Regions from separate parts of the Homo sapiens genome. Here region 1 is linked to region 2. The links come from fine-mapping of genetic effects on gene expression. A gene starts in region 2. The other region holds a variant in brackets. All regions are shown on one strand. Distances are from middle to middle.

Region 1 (11,214 bases), 460 kb after region 2:
AAAGCAGGTGGATCACTTGAGGTCAGGAGTTTGAGACTAGCCTGGACAACATGGTGAAACCTCGTCTCTACTAAAAATGTGAAAAAAAAAAAATAGCTGGGCATAGTGGCGGGCGCCTGTAGTCCCAGCTACTCAGGAGGCTGAGGCAGGCAAATCGCTTGAACCCGGGAGGTTGAGGTTGCAGTGAGCCGAGATCTTGCCACTGCTCTCCAGCCTGCGCTACAAGAGCGAGACTCCATCTCAAAAAGAAAAAATATTTTTAAAAGAGAAAATGAAAAGAAAAATCCTTCTTAAATTAGCATAAAGTATAATGTAAAAATGTAACGATATGATATAATTCTCCTTGGAATAGGAAAAATAATTTTAAAATTCAGATGGAAGAATAAATATTCAAGAATTGCCAAGAAAATTTTTGAAAAGTAGTAGTGAGGAGAAACTTGCCCCAGAAAATAATTAAAACTTTGGTCTAAAGGTATTAGAAGAGAAATAAGTCTAATTTTGACACCAAAATACACAAATATATCTTTGGCCCAAGAAAGAGAGTCCAAAAATAGACCTAAAATATGTGAGAATGTAATCATAACAAAGGTGATGCTTCAGCTCAGTGGGTTGAGCCGTTTATTTACTAAATTGGCTCTGCATCTGGATTGAATAAAGTTAGATCTTTTCTATACAGTGTGCACATTAACAATTTTCAGATGTTTTAAAGACTTAATATAACAACTAAAACTCTAAAAAGATAAAATGTAGAAGTGGGAAATACCTTATTAGGTAAGGTATGACACACAAGCCATAAAGAAAAAATGGACAGATTTAATTTCATAAGTATTAACATTTTCTCTCTAAAAATGACACCACAAACAAAGTCAAAAGACAAAGTCTATTCGAGGAGGACATAGTATAAAACAAATGATGAGTAAATGGGTAATATCCCTAATAGAAAGAGATCTTATCAATATAAATTGATAAGAATATGACAAACAGCCCAGCTGGGGAACGGACAAAGAAGAGGCTTCCATTTTCAGAAATATTTTGGAATGAGTTTTCCAAGAAACTCTTCTCCATACAGAAAGATCTAAAAATGCTTAAGAGAGTAGAAGTAAAATATTTTTCAAAAGCCCGATTGAGCTGGCATGAAAGTCAGGGAAACAATCATAGGGCAGAAATGACAAGAGATGCTGACTAGAAGGGCAAGAAATTGCTGGAGTTGATGTTTGCTCTAAAGACATCTTTTCATCCCTGGTGGCCAATTGGGTTTTAACAGCGCAGGAGGTGTCCAAGACAGGACATAGAGCCTGGGACCAGGGCAGTAGGGAGGTCACCCTAAAGATACTCACATGAAGCCAGAATTTTAAAAGGGAGTTTGTGATCTAGGATATACTTTAAACATAAGAAGAAACCTTAAATGAATTGAAAAGGATACATTTTGCAAATACAAACCAAATAAACACTGAGGTAACCATATATCTAAGACTACATGTCAGACAAAGTGTACTTTGCAGAAAGAAGCATTACTAGAGAGAGGGGAAATAAATAAGGATGCAGGTGTGTAAATGCACCAGAAAGATATCACAGTTCTAAATCTGCATGCCCCCAGTATCATAATGTGAAAATATTTAAAGCACAAATTGGTAAGACTTAAAAAATAAAAGAAAGATGCAAAGCCTCAATCATAGCAGGGGACTTTAATGTGACTTATTTAATTGCTGATAGAACAATCAGACAAAAAACATGCAGAATATAGATATGCAAAAAAACCTTAAACTTGACCCAATTAATATATATTCACACACACACACACACACACACACACACACACACAACATTGCAAATTGCCAGGTGTGGTGGCTCATGCCTGTAATCCCAGCACTTCAGGAAGCCGAAGTGGGAGGATCACTTGAGCTCAGGAGTTGGAGGCCAGCCTGGACAACATAATGAGAACACATCTCTACAAAAAAAAAATATTAGCCAGTCATGGTGGCACTCACCTGTAGTTCCAGCTACTCAGGAGACTGAGGAGGGAGGATTGCTTGAGCCTGGGAAGCAGAAGTTGCAGTGAGCTGAGATCATGCCACGCACTCCAGCCTTGGCAGTGGAGTGAGGTCCTGTCTCAAAAACAAAACAAAACAAAAAACACCACTGCAACTGACAACTGTGTAGGAGATAGAAAAAAACTAAACTTTTGTTTCTACTTTTAACACAGCACAAAGCACTTCTGGTTACCAAAATGTGCTTGGGGTTTTCCCCACACACTAACCGGTTCTCCAGTGAACACCAACACGGTGTCCTACAATGTAACCAGATTCTGACACCATCTACCTGGAGTTACAGTGAGATCCCACAGGTGAAGGGCTCAGTTTCACAAGACTGCCCCTCACTTCAGATATCACTTCCGAGTGGTAGGTTACCCACAACTTCTGTTCAACTTGGCTACAAACTGGAGGTTTCCCAGACCCCCTTCTCAGGTTCAATTACTTTTCAAGACCAACTCGCAGAAGTCAGAGAAACACATTTGCTGGTTTATTATATTATTAATGGATATGATAAAGATTTCTAATGAACAGACAGTTGAAGGGATACAAAGGATGAAGTCTGGAAGGATCCCAAGTGCAGGAGCCTCTGTCCCCAGGGAGCTGGCACGCACCACTCTCTTGCCACATGGATGTGCTTATTTAGAAGCTCTCCAAACCCCAGAGTGCAGAGATTGTGATGGAGGCTTCATCACTTGGGCATGATGGGTTATTAACTCAATCTCCAGCCCCTCTCCCAATCCCAGAGAATGTGAGGTGGGGCTGGAAGCTCCAAGCTTCTAATCATGGCTTCTATCTCTGGTGACCAGCTCTCATTCAGGAACCAGCAAGAGACAAGTCATTAGAGCAAAAGATGCAAAAGACTTCACAAATTCCAGGGAATTAAAAGCTGTGTGTTAGGAACCAGGGTAAAAGACCAAATAGTAGAGCAAAAGAGGCTCCTGGCACTCCTACTGCTCAGGAAATTACAAGGGTTTTAGGAGTTCTGTGCCAAGAACCAGGGACAAAGACTGAAATAGATATTTCTTATTGTAAATCACAGTATCACAGTGACAAAATCCACACATTTTTCAAGTGCACATGGCATGTTTACCAAATTTACCACATGCCAGTCTATTTTTAAAAGTCTCAAAAAAGAATTCAGCAGATTAGAAGCATTCAGAGTATATTCTCTGATAACTAGAATTAAGCTAGCAATTAATATCAAAAAGACAACTAGAAGATTACCAACTGCCTGGAAGTTAAACAATGTATGTTTAAAAATCCATATGTCAAAAAAAGAAATTACAATAGAAATTAGAAAACAATTTGAAATGAATGACAATAAAGATAAGACATATAAAATATGTGGGATAAAGCCAAAGCATTGCTTAGGGAAAAACTTACAGTCTTTGGTACATATATTAGAAATAAAAAAAAAAGAAGTCAATAGTTTAAATTCTTATCTCAATAAGATCAAAAAAATCCTAAGCTAATTAAATCCAATGAAAGTAGAAAGAGGAAAATAATAAAGATAAAAATCAGAAATCAGTGCAATACAAAGCATGCAATAGAGACAAATCAATAAAGCCTAAAGTTAGTTCTTTGAAAAGATTAGTAAAATAAACCTCTGTCAATACTGACCAAGAACAAAGAGATAAAACTCAAATTATTAATATAAGGAGGACGTCACTACAGATCTTAGACAGAAGTGTATAAGAAGAAGACATTATAAACAATTTTATTTTAAAAAATTTAAAAATTTTGATAAAATGGACAACTTTCTTTTAAAAAGAAATAGACTTGGCAAATGAAGAAGGAAAATATAGAAAATTTAAATTTTCTTACACCTGTTAAGTAAATTGAATCTGTTTATAAAAATATTCCCACAAAGAAAATTTTGGGCTCAAATGGCTTCACTGGAGAATTCTTCCGTACATTTAAGGAAGAAATAATACAAATTTGCATAAATTCTTCCAAAGAGTGGAAAAAGAGAGGATACTTCCCAACTCATTTGATGAGACCAGTATAGCTTGCATATCAGAACTTGAAAAGAACATTATAGGGAAAAATTATAGATAATTCTTTTTGTAAATATTTATACAAAAATCTTCAAGTAGTAGGAGATCAAGTACAGCAATATATAAAGGAATATCACATCACAACACAAAAAGTTAATCAATGTAGATCACCACATTGATAGATGAAAGGAGAAAAAACCATATGATTACTTTGACACATTAAAATTCATTTGACAAAAATTAATAACCATTTATAATAAAAAAGAAAACTCTTAGCAAGCTAGGACTGGAAGGGAACTGCCTAAATTTGATAAAGAACAGCTACAAAAAAACCCTACAGCAAACATTATACTTAATGCTGAATTGTTAAAATCTTTTCCCTCTGAGATTGGGAATAAGACAAGGATGGCTACCATAATGACACTTATTAACATCATATTGAAGGTTCTAACCAATGGCATAAGGCAAGTAAATGAAATAAATAGTGTTAGTATGAGGAAAGAAATAAAACTGCCATTATTTGTAAAAGATGTGATTGTGTATGTAGAGAATTCCAAAGAATCTACAGAGAAACTATTGGAATTTCTAAGCAAGTTTAGCAAGGCCACTAGATTCAAAGCTAACATAAAAACTTAATTGTATTTCTATGTTCCAGCAACAATACATAGAAAACAAAAATTTTAAAATGAATCCTTTTACTGTACCATGGACCATCAAACATCTAGGGATAAACTTAATGAAAGTTGGGCAAGACCTCATCACTTAAAAATGTAAAATATTATTGGAATAGATTAAAGAAGACCTAAATATTGCAAAGATGTAAATTTTTCCCAACTTGATCATAGACATGTGAAAAGGTGTTCAACTATTTTTTTTTTTTTTTTTTTTTGAGACAGGTTCTTGCTCTGTAATCCTGGCTGGAGTACAATGGTGTGTGATCTCGGCTCATTGCAACAGCTGCCTCCCCAGCTCAAGCAATTCTCCCACCTCAGCCTCCTGAGTAGCTGGAACTACAGGCATGC[G/A]CCACCATGCCCAGCTACTTTTTGGCCTATTTTGTAGAGTCGGGATTTTGCTGTGTTGCTCAGGCTGGTCTTAAACTCCCGGGCTCAGGCAATCCACCCACTTTGGCCTCCCAAAGTGCTGGGATTATAGGCGTGAGCCATTGTGCCAGGCCAGATATTTGACTTTTATTCATTACTAGGGAATGCAAAATAAAAGCACAATAAGAAACCATAACTAACCTACCAGAATGGGCAGAATTTAAAAGATTCAATACCCATTGGAGCAAACAGAACATTTATACATTGCTAGTGGGAGAATACATCAGTAGAAATACTTTGAAAAGCTCTGTCTCTAATAAAGCCGAACATGTGCCCATCCAATAACCCAGTGATGATGCCCCATTTGGGTAAATACATGTGTTCACCAGGAGATGTACACAAGAATATTATTATCAGCACTATTAATAACAACAAAATACTAGAGATTACCCAACTGCTCACCAAGAGTAGAACAAGTAAATAAATTGTAATGGGTTCACACACCATAAAATATTATACTGCAATGAGAATAAATGAACTCTTGTTACATGTTGTTAGTATGGATGAAATTCTTAATATAATGTTTATTTGAAAGAAGCTAAATCAAACACAAAAGAAGATGGGGGAAACTGTTCTAAATTGGAGGAGATCAAAGACACATAAGGGCATATGTTTGGAAGATAACTGAGGAAATTTGTAAATAGACCATATGTTGGATAAAGTAATTGAATTATTGGCCTAGATATGGTAATGATAATGAGCTTGTGTAGGGAAATGCCTCCATTCGTAGGGGAAGCATACTGAAGTGTTTAGGGGTGAATATCATGATAATTGTAGACTATTTTGAATGATTTGATGAGAGGAAAGTGTGTGTATTTAAAAAGAGAGAGACAGAACCAACATGGCAAAATATTAAAGGTTGGTGAATATAGGTGAGGAGGTACACTTTCTACTTTTCTAGGAGCTTAAAATTTTTTTCTAAAGAAAATTAAAGGGACAGACACATGAAAAAATGCTCATCATCACTGGCCATCAGAGAAATGCAAATCAAAACCACAATGAGATACCATCTCACACCAGTTAGAACGGTGATCATTAAAAAGTCAGGAAACAACAGGTGCTGGAGAGGATGTGGAGAAATAGGAACACTTTTACACTGTTAGTAGGACTGTAAACTGGTTCAACCATTTGTGGAAGACAGTGTGGCAATTCCTCAAGGATCTAGAACTAGAAATACCATTTGACCCAGCCATCCCAGTACTGGGTATACACCCAAAGGATTATAAATCATGCTGCTATAAAGACACTTGCACCCGTATGTTTATTGCGGCCCTATTCACAATAGCAAAGACTTGGAACCAACCCAAATGTCCATCAATGATAGACAGGATTAAGAAAATGTGGCACATATGCACCATGGAATACTATGCAGCTATAAAAAAAGATGGGTTCATGTCCTTTGTAGGGACGTGAATGAAGCTGGAAACCATCATTCTCAGCAAACTATCACAGGGACAAAAAACCAAACACTGTATGTTCTCACTCATAGGTGGGAATTGAACAATGAGAACACTTGGACACAGGGTGGGGAACATCACACACCAGGGCCTGTCGTGGGGTGGGGTGAAGGGGGAGGGACAGCATTAGGAGATATACCTAATGTAAATGATGAGTTAATGGGTGCAGCAAACCACCATGGCACATGTATACATATTTAACAAACCTGCACGTTGTGCACATGTACCCTTGAATTTAAAGTATAATAAAATAATAATAATAATAATAATAAAGAAAATAAAAGGGAAAATAAAAGTAATGCACACCAATTAGAGAAAATTTGTAAAATAAAATATAAAGAAGAGGAAAAAGATATAGAAAATCCAAATAGATTCTCCTTTAAAAAACATTGACTCCATTGAGAATATCTGCTATTTCTGCTTTTATTCAATATTGATTTGGAGCTCCTGGTAGCACAGTAATAAAAGAAAAAGAAATGAGTAAAGATGGAACAGAAAGAAAAAATTATCCACATGGAAGACCCAAGAGTATCTACAGACAAATTATAACTAAGAGAGTTTGCAAGGTTGCTGCATATAAAATAAATAAGCAAAGATAAGGCTGGCGAGGTGGCTCATGCTTCTAATCCCAATACTTTGGGAGGCCGAGGGGGGTGGAACACTTGAGGTCAGGAGTTCGAGACCAGCCTAGTCAACATGGTGAAACTCCGTCTCTACTAAAAATACAAAAATTAGCTGGACGTGGTAAGGCTGAGGCAGGGAGAATCGCTTGAACCTGGGAGGCAGAGGTTGCAGTGAGCCAAGATTGTGCCACTGCACTCCAGCCTGGGCGACAGAGTGAGATTCCATCTCAAAACAAAAGAAAAAAATAAAAGACAAATAAACAAAGATAAAATTCACTTTTTACATTCTAGCATCATAGAGCTAGTAAAGGAAATTTTTAAAAGATTTCATTTAAATATAACAACAAAATAATTAAAGACTACAAAAGATATACAAGATCTTTAGGTAGCAAACAATAAAACTTAATTGAAAGACATTCAAGAAGGCCACAGTGATGGAGAGATAAGCTGTGTTCATAGTCGGGAAGATTTAACCACATAAATATATCAATTCACCCCAAATCAATTTCTAAATTCAATTCCAGTCCAAATCCCCAAGATGCTTTTTATTGAACTTGACAAATGGATTCTAAATATATAGAGATATGAAAAAGCAAGAATAGCCAAGACAATTTTGCAGTTAGTGAAGCTTGTCTTGGCAGGTATTAGGATTTTAATAGAAACCCAGTGTGATCGAGAACAAGGAAGGACATATGGATTAACGGAACAGAATAGGGAGTCCAGAAACATAGATGAAAATATTATATTCCCACATGAATAAGGAAACTTTATACTTGCCAAAGATGGCATTGCAAATCAATGTGAAAAGGATGGACTCGTCAATCAACCACGTACAGAAGACTGATTATGGAAAAAGTAAAATTAGCTCCCTACCTCCAACCGAACACAGAAAAAATTCCCACACAGATTAATGACTTAATGTGAAAAACAGAAGTTTAAAACTTTCAGAATAAAATATAGAATATTTTTATTATTTCAAATAGGGAAGAATTGTTTAAAACACAAAAAGCACAGCTATGAAAGAAAAAATGGATAGATTTGATTGTCTTCACACTAAAAGTGTTTGTGTAGCAAAAGTCACCATAAACAATGAGAAGACATGAGTCACTAATTGGGAGAGGAAATCTTCCATATAAATGACAAAGAACTAGGATCAGTGTTATATAAAGAATTTCTACGAAGCAAAGAAGAAAAAGATAGTAAAATTTGGCAAAAACCATAAAAAGACGTTTCTCAGAAGCAGCAATATGAAACGTATCTATGAAAAGATGATCAGTATCCTTCATAATTAGGGAAATACAAATCAATCTCATTATGAGTTTTTATTTTACCCCCATTATTGGCAAAAGTTAAAAGTCAGATAACACCAAGTGATGGTAAAGATAAGGAACAGTGAAAACTCTCTCTTTCAATGCTAGAGGGTGCAGCTTGGTTTATGATAACTTAAGGTGTGCATCTCTTACAACCTTGCCATCCACTCCTGGGTACATTCTAGAGCAAACTCTGGCACAGAAAGAGGACATATAAGAATACTCAATTCAACATTGTTTATGACAGTAAAAATTGGAAACAACTTTTATTACCCATCAGCAGGAGAACAAATAACTACTTATGGTATATCTGAATAATATTAATAACATACCATATACCACTGGGAGTGAGTGAACTAGAGCTATAGACATGACATGGATAAATCCCACCAACATAAAATTGGAAAGACTGCATACAATAAAGAATGCATACAATTAATATATAGAATTTAAAAATATGAAAAACACAGTATATAAAAACACACATATGTGTTTCAAACACAAAACACACATGAAAATAAATAACCGGCAAATTCCAGACTTCCCAGGTTACCTCTAGAGAGAAGAAAAAGATGGCAGAGAGGAGGGGCTTTAAGCTATATCTATAATGGTTTCTCTCTTATTCTGGGTGGTGGGAGCCCAGATACCCACTGTATTAAATATTATCCTCTCTACTGTTTTTTTGCTATGTCAAAATATTTCATAATTTAAAAAGGAGGAACATAAAATAAAATACAAAGCATGATAGAAAACAAGCAGAGCTACTTGTAAATACCAGAGACTGGGCCCACCAGGAAGGAAATGGAGAGGGTGCTCCTGGATGACTGGCCCCACCTCAAGTAGCATGGGGGCTCCAGGAAGTGGCGTTGAGCTCACACCCTTTATCTGATGTGGGTGTTTGATGGGTGTGACAATGGCTGACCAGAGTCCTGGGGACTGTGGAAAACTTGTCCTACACCATAGTTCAGACACCTGCCAGAGATCATGGAAAGCCTGAAGTCTTCCCTGGACCATCCCAGCTGCAGAGAATCTCCACCAGTCATTTATTCAAGATTATGACAAGTATTTATTGACTACTCACTATGTGCTAAAGAAACTAGAGAAACAATAGTGAATGAAATGGACTTGGTTCCTGCCATCATCGAGATGACAAGCTGGAGGAGGAGATGGGCCTTAATCTCATGATCACAGAGAGAAGTATGTGTCTCCAGGTTGTGACAAGTGCTGTGAAGGAAAACCACAGGGTGCTAAGGGAAGATGCAAGTCACCCAGCTGGAGTTTGGAGTCAGGAAAGTTGGTGGAGGGAGAAGCATTGAAGTTTGTAGGTTGAGAAGGGGGCTACCCAGCAAAGAGCAGAGTCAGAGGGGAGGAGAAACCTCGCACTTTCCCCCAGGATCCTGGGGGTCCTGGGGTTGGGGTGATGGGGCTGGGGCATAGTCACAAAGGGGCATAGCAAGACTGTGCCGGGCCTCCTGGCACACCGAAAGAGCCTCAGCCTGAGAGCAATAAAAAGGCATTGAATCATTCTGACATAAGCAGATTGCATCTTTAGAAGTTCACTCTGTTGACAACACCAAGCACTGACCAGGCTGCAGAGCACCTAGAACACTCCTCCACTGATGGTGGGAATGCAAAACACTACAGCCACTCTGGAAAACAGCTCGACACTTTCTTATAAAGTTAAACATGCATATGACCCAGCAGGAGTGAAAGCTTATGTTCACACAAAATCCTGGACGTTATTGTTTTGTTCATAATCACTAAGCACTGGAAGCAATCCAGATGTCCTTGGATTGGTGAATAGATAAACAATCTGGGTACATACACATAGAGCAAATAAAATACAATAAAAAATCAGTCTCCTGCTATAGACAACAACATGAATATATCTCACACATTTTGCTAGATGAAAGGAATGGGATGCACAGGGCTTCCTTCTGTTTGACTCCATTCATGTGACATTGTGGAAAAGGCAGAAAACAGACCAGTGGTTTCCAGGGGCTGAGGCTGTGGGGAAGAGGTGATTACAAAGGGGCACTGGGGAATATTTTGGAGCTGTTCTCTATCTCGACTGTGGTAGGAGCTACCTGGTAGTATGCATTTATTGAAACTTACAGAACCGCATGCCCCAAAGGGTGAATTTTACTGTTTATGAATCATGCCTCAATTTAAAAAAAGAAATAAATTTAAAAAATCACTTTGGCTGCTCAAGGAGAAGTGATTAGAGACAGCTCTGGTCAATATGGTGGCCTGAATTCCCATTTGGAACTCTGCTCCCACATCAAACACCTAGAGTGCTAGATAAAGACATCCTCTTCCCATCTCTGAGGAATACAGAGCTGAAATTGAGAGCAAGAAAGGAAGAGTCTCAGGTGTCTGAGTTAAAGGTGTTGAAAGTCGGGGAGGTTACCAAGAGCTGACGCTGTGGGTCTCATGGGGATACCTAAAGACATCCCAGCGTTTCTCACTGCTAGTTACCAGACCTGCAGGGGCTGCTGGTTCAATCCTAGCCACTCGAGAGGCAGAGATTTAGGGTCTTCCCAGAACCACCTTGGGACCTATGCTTGGTGAAAGAATGTGTGTGCAAAGAAAGCCTGCCCTGAACAACTTGCTTTCTTGTCGGGAAAAGGCTATCTGGACACCTTGGTGAGATGCCATGAGATACACTCAACATGCATTACTTCCAAGTAGCAG
Region 2 (10,196 bases):
CAGACTCGGGGCATTTGGACACCTATGGAGAAAGGGCTGTCTAGGTGGTGGGCGTGGTACAGGAGAAAAAAAGGTGGATCTGGGAAACATCAGACACTGTTTCTTGTATCATAGACTTTCCCTCCCAGTCCAGAAGGGCTTCCTGGAGGAGGAAGAATTTCAGGCTGACATTAGGACCTGGGTTTGATGAAACTGAGTATAGCAATTCTTTAGTATTATCAGGCAACATAAATCTCTACTCCCAGCTATCTGTCCTCTCCCCATGCACACTTATTGGCAGCTGGCACCTTTCGTGACTCACATGATAAAGATTTTTAGAAATGTAACTCAAGGTAGGAAGGACATAGACACTCTTATAGTATTATTGGATATGAAAATTATGCAGGTGGGTGATTTCCCCTAGGAGACAATTCTATGTGAGTTTTAGACATCTTGCCGGAAGCTAGGCCATGATAAGGATCCCATCTCCTTTCCCCTGTCCTTATGATCAAAAGCCCCTGCTTCCCCATATTTTTTCTCATTCTAAAGCAGGGTCAGAAAGAGCCAGAAATGACTGAGTCTCTAGGTGGGAGGCTGGAGGCAAGCAGAAGAGGGGCTTGGGGGAGAGGGGAAGGGAGGCAGAGAGGGGAGGGAAGTGTGGGCCTGAGGTAGAGTCCTTTCTTTTATTTTTGTAGACTTAGGTTATTCACTGTGAGAGTCCTTTCTTTTTGCTTTGTTTTTTGAGAGAGATTCTTGCTCTGTCACCCAAGCTGGAGCGCAGTGGCGCGATCTCGGGTCACTGCAAATTACACCTCCTGGGTTCAAGCGATTCTCCTGCCTCAGCCTCCCGAGTAGCTGGGACTACAAGTGCCTGCCACCATGCCCGGCTAATTTTTGTATTTTTAGTAGAGAGGGGGTTTTGCCATGTTGGTCAGGCTGGTCTCGAACTCCTGGCCTCAAGTGATCCACCTGCCTTGGCCTCCCAAAGTGTTGGGATTATAGGCCTGAGCCACTTGCCCAGTGAGAATCCTTTTCTGACTGCATGGTTTGGCCCTGAGTGGACACTTGGAATTCAGGCTACAGGCCGGGAAAACATTACCATCCTTGCACCTGCTGGGTGGGCGCCCATTCTGTCCGACCAGGAAACAGGTCCCAGCACCCAGGTGCTAGGCATACAGCGAGGATAGCCTGGGTGTCTCCTGCTCTCAGGACCACCTTGTCTGGTGGGAGACATGCATATGTAGAAACATGGGAACATGGCAGAAGAGGCAGGAATGGAGCTGGGGGCTTTGGACCTAGGGCAGGCATGGCTGAGCTAGGCCATTTCATTCTCTCCTCCTGAAGAATGGCCCCCTTCCTTCTGCTATTGTTCTGTGGAGTCCTTCTCTGGTGCTTGGGAGCCCAGCCAGCAGTAGCCTCAGTGACCCCAGGGACAGGCCCCCACAACAGCAGAGGAGAGAGAGAGGGACCGGGGTGTTGGCGGCGAGGCTGGTGTGGAGATAGGGAGATGAATGTCTTAGCTGGAGGAGCTGGAGAAGTCCAGGCTGCCCATTTTTCAGAGGGGAAAGCTGAGGCCCTCATAGAGCAAGGGATTGTCCAGGGAAAGGAACGTGAGTATCGAGGAAGAAAAACCTGGGGGGCAGGGGCCCAGAAGAGAAGGCAGATCCCTCTCCACCCCACCCCAGGCAGGAAGCCCAGGCTCCAACCACCGCCTTTGGGCCAGGCACCTCTGCTGTCCTCTGAAGGGGTGGGGAGGATGAGTGTGGCTTCTGGCCCACTGGACATGCTTGCAAGGCACATTTGCAGATTTGCTGCTGCAAGGGGAGGGGTGGGCTGGTGGGGAGGTGCCGGCCTGATGGGGCACCTGGAGGGTGGAGAGACCCCTAGGCTCCTGTTTACTCCCCCTCAAGTCTCAGAGGCAGCCCAGAGGCAGAAGGAGACTTGATGGACACTTGCGCAAAGTCAGGGCTGGACCGGGCAATTCCACATGCAGTTCTCCTGGCTGGTGAATTCTTGAATTAGTGGGAGGGCAGGTTCACTCTCCAAAGTTGGACCATAAATTCTCCGAGGGGCAGGATCGCCTCACCCGGACACTGGCCCTTATACATCCCAGGGTACCAGTAAATGTACGCCTCATCCAGTCGCTTTTCTAACTGCAACAAGAGCGAAGGAATATTTATTGGGCACTTACTCTGTTCTAGACACTATCACAGCAGGGACTGCTTTTCATTCTGGCACCAATTCTGGGAAGTAGATGGTATTATTATCCCCATTTGACAGAGGTGGAAACTGAGGCCCAGAAAGGTGAAGTGCCTTGCATAGAGACTTGCTCAAGGTCACATGCAAATGGAATCAGGACTGGAATCCAAGTGGGTTCAGAGCCTGCCCTGAATGCCCCACTTTTCCTCCTTCCTAGGGCCCGTGGCACTCTTTCTGGGGCCAAGCTCAGGCCAAGCTGAAGGAGCCATTCTGGAAGCAATTCTGGGCAGACGAAGGCCAAGAAGCCAATTCACAGCGGTTGTGCTGACGAGTTTCTTGGCAATGTGGAAAGTCTGACGATCTTACAAATGTGTGAAACTGAGACTCAATTTTCCCTCATCCTACCTCCCCTTTCTACCCACCCTCCAACATGGATCTAAATATGGATGCTATATTGGGGGAGTAGCCCCCCTCTCTAGACTGCAAGAGAAGATGACGTTGGGGAGGAGGTGGGGCCAGCCAAATTGGGCAAGAGCGGCCTCAGATGATGCTGCCTCCAAAAAGGTCCCTGTGTAAGTATGAGGTGGGTGGCTGAGATTTCTGAAATCCGTATCTGAGATGACTAGGTGGAGTCATACATTTCCACCCTTCTGGGGTTAAGGACACAGCCTTAACCATTTAGGGTGACCATTTAGGGTGAAGTCACTGTTTATGGGAGTCTAAACTGTGACTTTGGCAAGGTGCAATATAAAAATGCTAATACATGTTTATGCACTAAGCTGGAAATAATGCCAAGCCCCTCAGTTAAAAAAAAACCTGTCAAGAATTGCAGTTTCCTTGAGTCGGAGGAACTAAGTGAGCTGTTAAATGAGGACTGTAAACCTGCCACATGGCGACGTTGCTTTGGTTATTAAATAGAAATACCTGCTTTCTATATGCATGCACTGTTGTTTACATGCCTCTGAATTTCTAATTTCTGCAGGAGATTCTGGTGACTGGTGTGCCATTTTCTCAATGTTCACAGTTATTATAACTTTAAATATTTTACCCATATCCTGTAACAATGTCATCCAAGTGTTCTTTAAGTGGTGGTGCTGAAAAACGCACCTGAAAATCGATAACATTGGAAAGGAAGTGAGATGTGATAAAACGTTATGAAGAAGGCCAAACCACCGGCAGGAAATGCTGCACTGTTAATTTAGCAGAGAGTGCGTTATGAAATATTAGCGATAATGCCAGGGAAATAAAAAGCAGCATTAAGGCAAAAATATGCCACAATTGGAGTAATGTATGCAACCTATCCTTTCTACTTTGCATTCATTTCTCTGGCAAAATTAGTCAGAAATTATGCACGCTTTGAATTATGCAAGTTTTTCAGGACCACATGCTTTGCATAAAACTCTACTGCCCTGAGGTTCTCAGTGGGTGGAAGAATGAGTGACCATATTCTAGGGTTATCTTAGGCCAGGCCGTTGTACCCTCCTGTCCTAGGTGGGGATGAAGTGACCTCATGTGTAAAATGGGACCGTTGGACTGGCTTGTCTTTCTTTCCTTATTAGACTATGTCGAGACAGGCACCATTATATTTCTGCCCCAAAGGTGTCTTTTTCTGGACGGATCCCACAGCTGATACCAAACTTGTCTTTATTAACTGTGAGGCTGGCCATTCAAACACCAGGTGCCAGAGAGGGTCCCTCACTCATCGGAATCCGGGTGGGATGAATCCTCGGAGGCAAGGTCCCTCCACCTTCACCCTAGAGTCACACAGAGACTTGCCCTGGCGGCTGGTGACAGGTGGGCGGGAGAAGAAAAGGCCCCTGGGGAGCAGGAGAAAGCCAGGTGCCATGGGGACCCAGCGCCGCTGGAGGGCAGCACCAGCACACAGCTGAGGCCGCCTCTCCCGGAGCCCGGAGGGAGCTGGGTTCCGGTCGCCAGCGGTGCCCGGGTGAGCAGTTCACCCTCACGTCCCTGCTCTGACGAAGTTTCCATTCTTCTGGAGAAGACAAAATAAACGTGAACAAATGAACAAGTGTGCATTGTCAGGCAGCAAGTGTTGGTACAAACAAGATAGTGGTGGGGGTGGGGACACCGTTAAATAGGGGCCAGGGAGGCCTAACCCGGGAGGGGATAGCTGAGATGCCACTTGAGTGGAGAAAACAGTCCGAGATCTGAAGGTGTTCATGGAGAGGGGAAGGGGCCCCTAGAGGAGTCGGGAAAGCCTGGGTCAGGGAAGACGAGAAAACTGAGGAACAGAGAAGCCAGGTAACTTACCCAGGGTCATAGAGCCGGTGAGCTGGGGACAGCGCCTGTCAACGCCCCAGAGCCTTCCACGGCACTGGTTTCTCCGACCTTCCTCTCTAAACAGGACCGTGACAGTGACAGTTTCTGCCCCACTCCCCATTTCTGACCGCAGTCCCCATAAGGAAACAGGGCAGGGATCACTGGCTGTGAGCCCAGCAAGTCCCCTCCCGTGGCTTTCTCAGTTATTAAATGGAAGGGTGGGTCCCCCCATAACTCCGAAGCTCCCCTCTCTAAGCGTCCGCGGGCCGGGAACGCCTGAATTCTGGCTCCCGAGCACCTTCTTGTGGACAGTTTTGGAATCACACGCTCAGCGAGAAAGGGTCGTGGGAAAATGGTCTGTGCTAATTTCGGAGAGGCCAGTGGATTGGAAGGTTATCACTGAGGGTGGGTGCACGTGTGTGTGTGTGTGCGCGCACGTGCATGCGTGCATGCATCTGTGTGCCTGTGTGTGTTGGTCTGTGTGTGAATGTACCTCTGTGCGTATCTGTGTGTATGGTTGTGTGTGAGCACATACTGCCCGAGCCTGTGTGTGTGTGAGTGTGTGTGTGCACTAATGTTTGTTTATATGGGCACAGGCACACACATGTCCATGTCCATGTGTGTGTACCTGCATCTGTATTTTTTCGTCTGGTGTATGGGCTTGTTTTTGTGTGCCTGCATGCATGTGCCCATGTGCGTGTGTGTTTTGGGAACTGGGACACAGAGGATGATATGAGAAGTCCCCAGTCTTTCTCACAAAGGCCTAACCACTCTCCCTGAAGCCAGCTTTCTCCCCTACTTGCTTCTGTCTGCACCATCACCTGAGTTCTCCCACCTGAACTTTTCACCGACATTTTTGATGATTTTTCTGTTTTGTGTCCGTTGAGGCTCATTTGAATGTTACAGATCATAGCTCAAGAAATGATTCTCAGGCCGGGCATGGTGGCTCATGCCTGTAATCCCAGCACTTTGGGAGGCTGAGGCAGGTGGATCGTCTGAGGTCAAGAGTTCAAGACCAGCCTGGCTAACATGGTGAAACCCCGTTTCTACTAATAATAACAAATTAGCCAGGTGTGGTGGCGTGTGCCTGTAATCCCAGCTACTCGGGGGGCTGAGGCAGGAGAATCACTGGAACCGGTGAGGCAGAGGTTGCAGTGAGCTGAGATCCCTGGGTGACACAGCGAGACTCCGTCTAAAAAAAAAGAAAGAAAGAAGTGATTCTCCTCTAGTCTACTCACCCAAATCATGAGTTTCACTTCTCAGGTGGGCTGATCACCCACTGTCCTGTTGAGACCTGGGGACTTGTACAAAGTCGTACCCTGGAGGGTTGAGCAGAAAACCAGGCACATAGTAACTAAGACAATGGCGCGTTAGCAAAGCACTCCACACATCCCGTTCACATGTGTGTCTTACTTGACTCACAAACTGATCTTTCATCCTTTTTTTTTTCCTTTTTTGTGGTGAACAGGGTCTTGCTATATTGCCCAGGCAGGTCTCAAACTACCGGCTGATCTTTCAAGCCTAGGCAAGGTGAGGCTAATTATTCCCATTTTACAGATGAAGACACTGAGGCTCAGAGAGGGAAATAATGAAAATAGTACTGCAGGAACCATCTAACCAATATGCAAACTCTCTCATCCAGTTTTCATAACATCATCAATTCCCTTCTTTAAAAGACAAGGAGATGGAGGCTTTAAAAATGTAAGGCGAGTGCTTAATGCCATATAGCCAATCAGTAGTTGAGGCAGGATTTGAATCTCGCTCCAGAGATTAAAGCCCAAGTCCTAAACACAATGGCAGGCGTGAGGGCCCTGGGCACACACTGACTCAAGCTCTTTCAGCCACACACTGTCCCTTTGCCATGCCTCTGGGGTCCTAAGAACATCCTCCTCTGAGCCCACAGGGAGGTCATTCCCCATCCTGGGTGCCCCTGCTCCTCTCCCAGATGCGGGGCAGGTGAATCTTGTAACCTGTGTCACTCTCAGAGGCTGAGATGGGGACTGAGCATTAATTATGCAATAACCTCGCTGTGGTGTGCCTAATTGTCTGATAACCATAATTGAATCTTATGGATTACACCAACATTATTGCAGGGAGCAGCTTAAGGCAGTTAACAGAAGCTGCACTCACTTTGTGATATCTTCCTCCTGTCTCCTTGCTGGCTGGGCTGTGAGTCCTTTCCTGGGGGCTGAGGGAGGCCTCGAGGTGCAGGGGGCAGGCAGGAGGTGAGTGACAGCACAAATGTCGCATCACCTTATCCCCCCGAGGGCACCATCTTCCTGGCTGAGAAAAGTCTGTGTGGCAGGTGGAATTATCATTTTGTAAATGAGAATGTGGCATCAGAAGGCTGAGAGACTCTCCCAATTTCAGTCTTGCTCATTGCTACTGGTCCTTGCTAGCATCATCTGGGACTGTTTAGACGTGCAGCATCTCAGCTGGGCTCGGTGGCTCACGCTTGTAATCCCAGCACTTTGGGAGGCCAAGGCGTGTGGATCATGAGATCAGGAGTTTGAGACCAGCCTGACCAACATGGTGAAACCCCGTCTCTAAAAATTAGCTGGGCATGGTGGTGCGTGCCTGTAATCCCAGCTACTCAGGAGGCTGAGGTAGGAGAATTGCTGAACCTGGGAGGCGGAGGTTGCACTGAGCCGAGATCACGCCACTGTACTCCAGCCTGCGTGACAGAGCAAGACTCCGTCTCAAAAAAAAAAAAAAAAAAAAAGAAATGCAGCATCTCAGGCCCCACCCTGGACCTACTGAATCAGAAGCTGCATTATTTTTTATTAAATGAATTTTTTTTCTTTAAAGAGATGAGATTTTGCTCTGTCTTCCAGGCTGGAGTGCAGTGGTGCGATTGTGGCTTGCTGCAGCCTCGAACTCCTGGGCTTGAGAGATCCTCCAGCCTCAGCCTCCCTAGTAGCTGGGACTACAGTCGGAGCCACCATGCCTGGCTCTCAGAATCTGCATTGTAATAGCATCTCAGGTGATTTATTTTCACGTTGCCGTTTGCTGAGTGCTGGTTTATGTAATTATTTATTCATTGCCTATGTGGGATCCATTGCCCTTTCTTGTGTCAGCAACACCTTGACTTCCATTTGGGAAATAACCCTTCTTCCCATATGGGAGACCCCTAGCTGTACCCTTACTCCTACCTCCCTCAGGCATTGACCCCAGGCCAGGCCAATGAGTCAGTTCCAAGATCTTTGAGGCACTGTTGAGGAAGACGTGTTTGATGGAGTTTTGCTGAGGCTTCTTCATTCCCTCCCTCCCTTGCATGGTTCACTGTGGGTGAATATTCTTCCCCACACCATCCATGGTGAGCTCAGCCACTGACTTGCTTTGGTCAATGGAATGTCGGTAGAAGTGATGATGTGTGGGTTCCAAGCTAGGCCTTAAAGAAGTATCTTGTGTTTCCGCTTGCCCCTCTAGAGCTCCTGCCCACCATGAGAAAGGAAGGTACACCCAGGCGACCATGGCACCTTCATCTGGAGTCCAGGATGGAGACTGTGGGGCAAATTGAACCTAACCAGAGACTGGAGTCCAGCCTAACTCTGATATTAACAACCCCCCAACTAACCTGCAGACCCATGAGTATGAAAGGAATGGTTGTTATAAGCAACTGAGATTTTCAGAGTGCTTGTTGCATGGCATTGGTGCAGCAGACACCTGACTGGTATAAAAGACATACTTTCTTTCCAGGGGGATTGCTAAGCTGAATTTGGATTTTAGGTGTTATCTTGTCACTAGGAAAGCAGGGCCTGCCTAAGGGCAAAACCAACCCAGAGGGAAATGGAGCTGAGATAGGATGAGAGCCCTGATCATGATGACAGCCTTTGTTTTCATGGATCCAGCCTCACAGGAGTTAGTCAACTCTTTCAGTCTCAAGGAGTAGAGAGCTGAAACTTCGCTGGCTTAAACCCAAGAAGGAATTAGCGGCTCACATAGCTCAGAAGTCTGGAGGTGATGTGGGTTTCAGGTGAGGCTTGAATCAGTAGCCCCTGGACCAGTGTCCTTGTCTCTCCACTCTGGGTCCCATTTTGCTGGTTTCATCTGGAGGCTGGCTCCCCTTTGTGATATCGTAAAATACATATTGAGTTGTTGTCCACATTTCCTGGCATGTTACTCCTAAAATCTATGGAATCTCCAAAGTGGTAAGTGTCTTTTTGTATGCTAATGAGTTGACAGTTGGCTGGCAGCCCCTAGGTAGCTTGAGGATGGGGGCTACTCCAGAAAGTTCAAGGCAGGATTAGAGGACTGGGGCTTTCAGCCCCACTCCCATTCTCTCTTAGAGGGGAGAGGGGCTGGAAGTTACGTTGATCACCAATGGCCGATGGCTTAATCAATCACGCCTGTGTAATGAAGCCTCCATAAAAACCCTGAAGGACAGGGTCTGGAGAGCTTCTGGACAGCTGGACACACGGGGCTCCTGGAGGATGGCGCTCTGCTCCCCCATACCTTGCCCTATGCATTGCCCATCTGTGTCCTCTGTGGTATCCTTTATAATAAGTGAGTCAACGTGTTTCCCTGAGTTCTGTGAGCTGCTCTAGCAAATTAATCCAACCAATGAGGGGATTGTGGGAACCTCAATTATAGTCAGTTGGTCAGAAGCACAGCTAAAATACTCTGGGACTTGTGATTGGCATCGGGAGAAGGGGAGCATCTTGGGGACTGAGTCCTTAGCCTGTGGAACCTGACGCTATCTCCAGGTGGGGAAGTGAACTGAATTAGAGGACACCGAACTGGTGTCTGCTGCGTAATTGATTGCTTGCTTACTATGTGGGAACGCCTCCCCAAACACCCATCTGGTGTAAGAAGCCCACTGTGAGTGTATAGTGGGAGAAACAGTCTGCTTATCCATGTATTCTCAGACCCTCATTGGAGCACGATGGCGTCCTTGTTCGGGTCTAACAGGAGAGAGAGTGTTTGTTCTGGAAGCGAGGAAGCTTCTTTCTCAGGAGCTGGCAGCAAATGTCTCAGGTCTCATGGCCTCAGGTCAGGTCACATACCGTCCCTGCACCAATCTCAGAGGCTGGAGACAGAATGTGCTGATGGGCCAAGGCTGGCTGGCTGGGGGGCAGGTTAGTGTCACTGAACAGCACAGAGCCTCAAGAGAAATAGGGCTTGGCCTGAGGAGAGGTGTTGGGGATGCTGGCTGGGAAGACGCAGGAGTTCCCTATTGCTGCTGTAAAACAGCATCACAAACGTGGGGGCTTAAAGCAACAAACATTTATTCTCTCACTTTTTTTTTTTTTTAGATGAAGTCTTGCTTTGTCGCCCAGACTGGAGTGCAGTAGATTGATCTCAGCTCACTGCAACCTCCGCCTCCCGGGTTCAAGCGATTCTCCTGCCTTAGCCTCCTGAGTAGCTGGGATTACAGGCTCCCACCACCATGCCCGGCTAATTTTTGTATTTTCAGTAGAGACAGGGTTTCACCATGTTGGCCAGGCTGGTCTCGAACTCCTGACCTCAAGAGATCTTCCTGCTTCAGCCTCCCAAAATGCTGGGATTACAGGCATGAGCCACTGTGCCCAGCCTATTCTCTCACATTTTTTGAGGCTAGAATTCAGACAAGGTGGGGCAAGGTTGGTTCCTTCTGGAGCTTCTGGGGGAGAATCGGCTCCATACCTCGCCCAGCTTACAGTGGTTGCCAGAAGCACTTGGTGTTCCTTGGCTTGTAGCCACATCACTCCAATCTCTCCTTCTGTTGTCACATGGTGTATGACACATGCCAACACAAA

Evidence for each region. PIP is the estimated chance that this variant, and not a neighbour inherited with it, causes the effect.
Region 1: its variant is the best candidate, but not a certain one, in a credible set for the expression of LINC02716 in hippocampus (GTEx, PIP 0.88).

The regions. Positions count from the first base shown.
Region 1 is chr11:45,305,159-45,316,372 of GRCh38, reverse strand. No RefSeq gene overlaps it. Among named protein-coding and RNA genes, the nearest start is that of SYT13, 24 kb to the right of the region's middle. The variant G/A (reference allele first, on the strand shown) is at 5,053.
Region 2 is chr11:45,765,968-45,776,163 of GRCh38, reverse strand. It overlaps LINC02716 (long intergenic non-protein coding RNA 2716), which reads right to left and starts at 4,732. Exons shown (of 2, transcript NR_027134.1): 1 at 4,450-4,732; 2 at 3,806-4,171. RefSeq lists an enhancer at 4,539-5,040.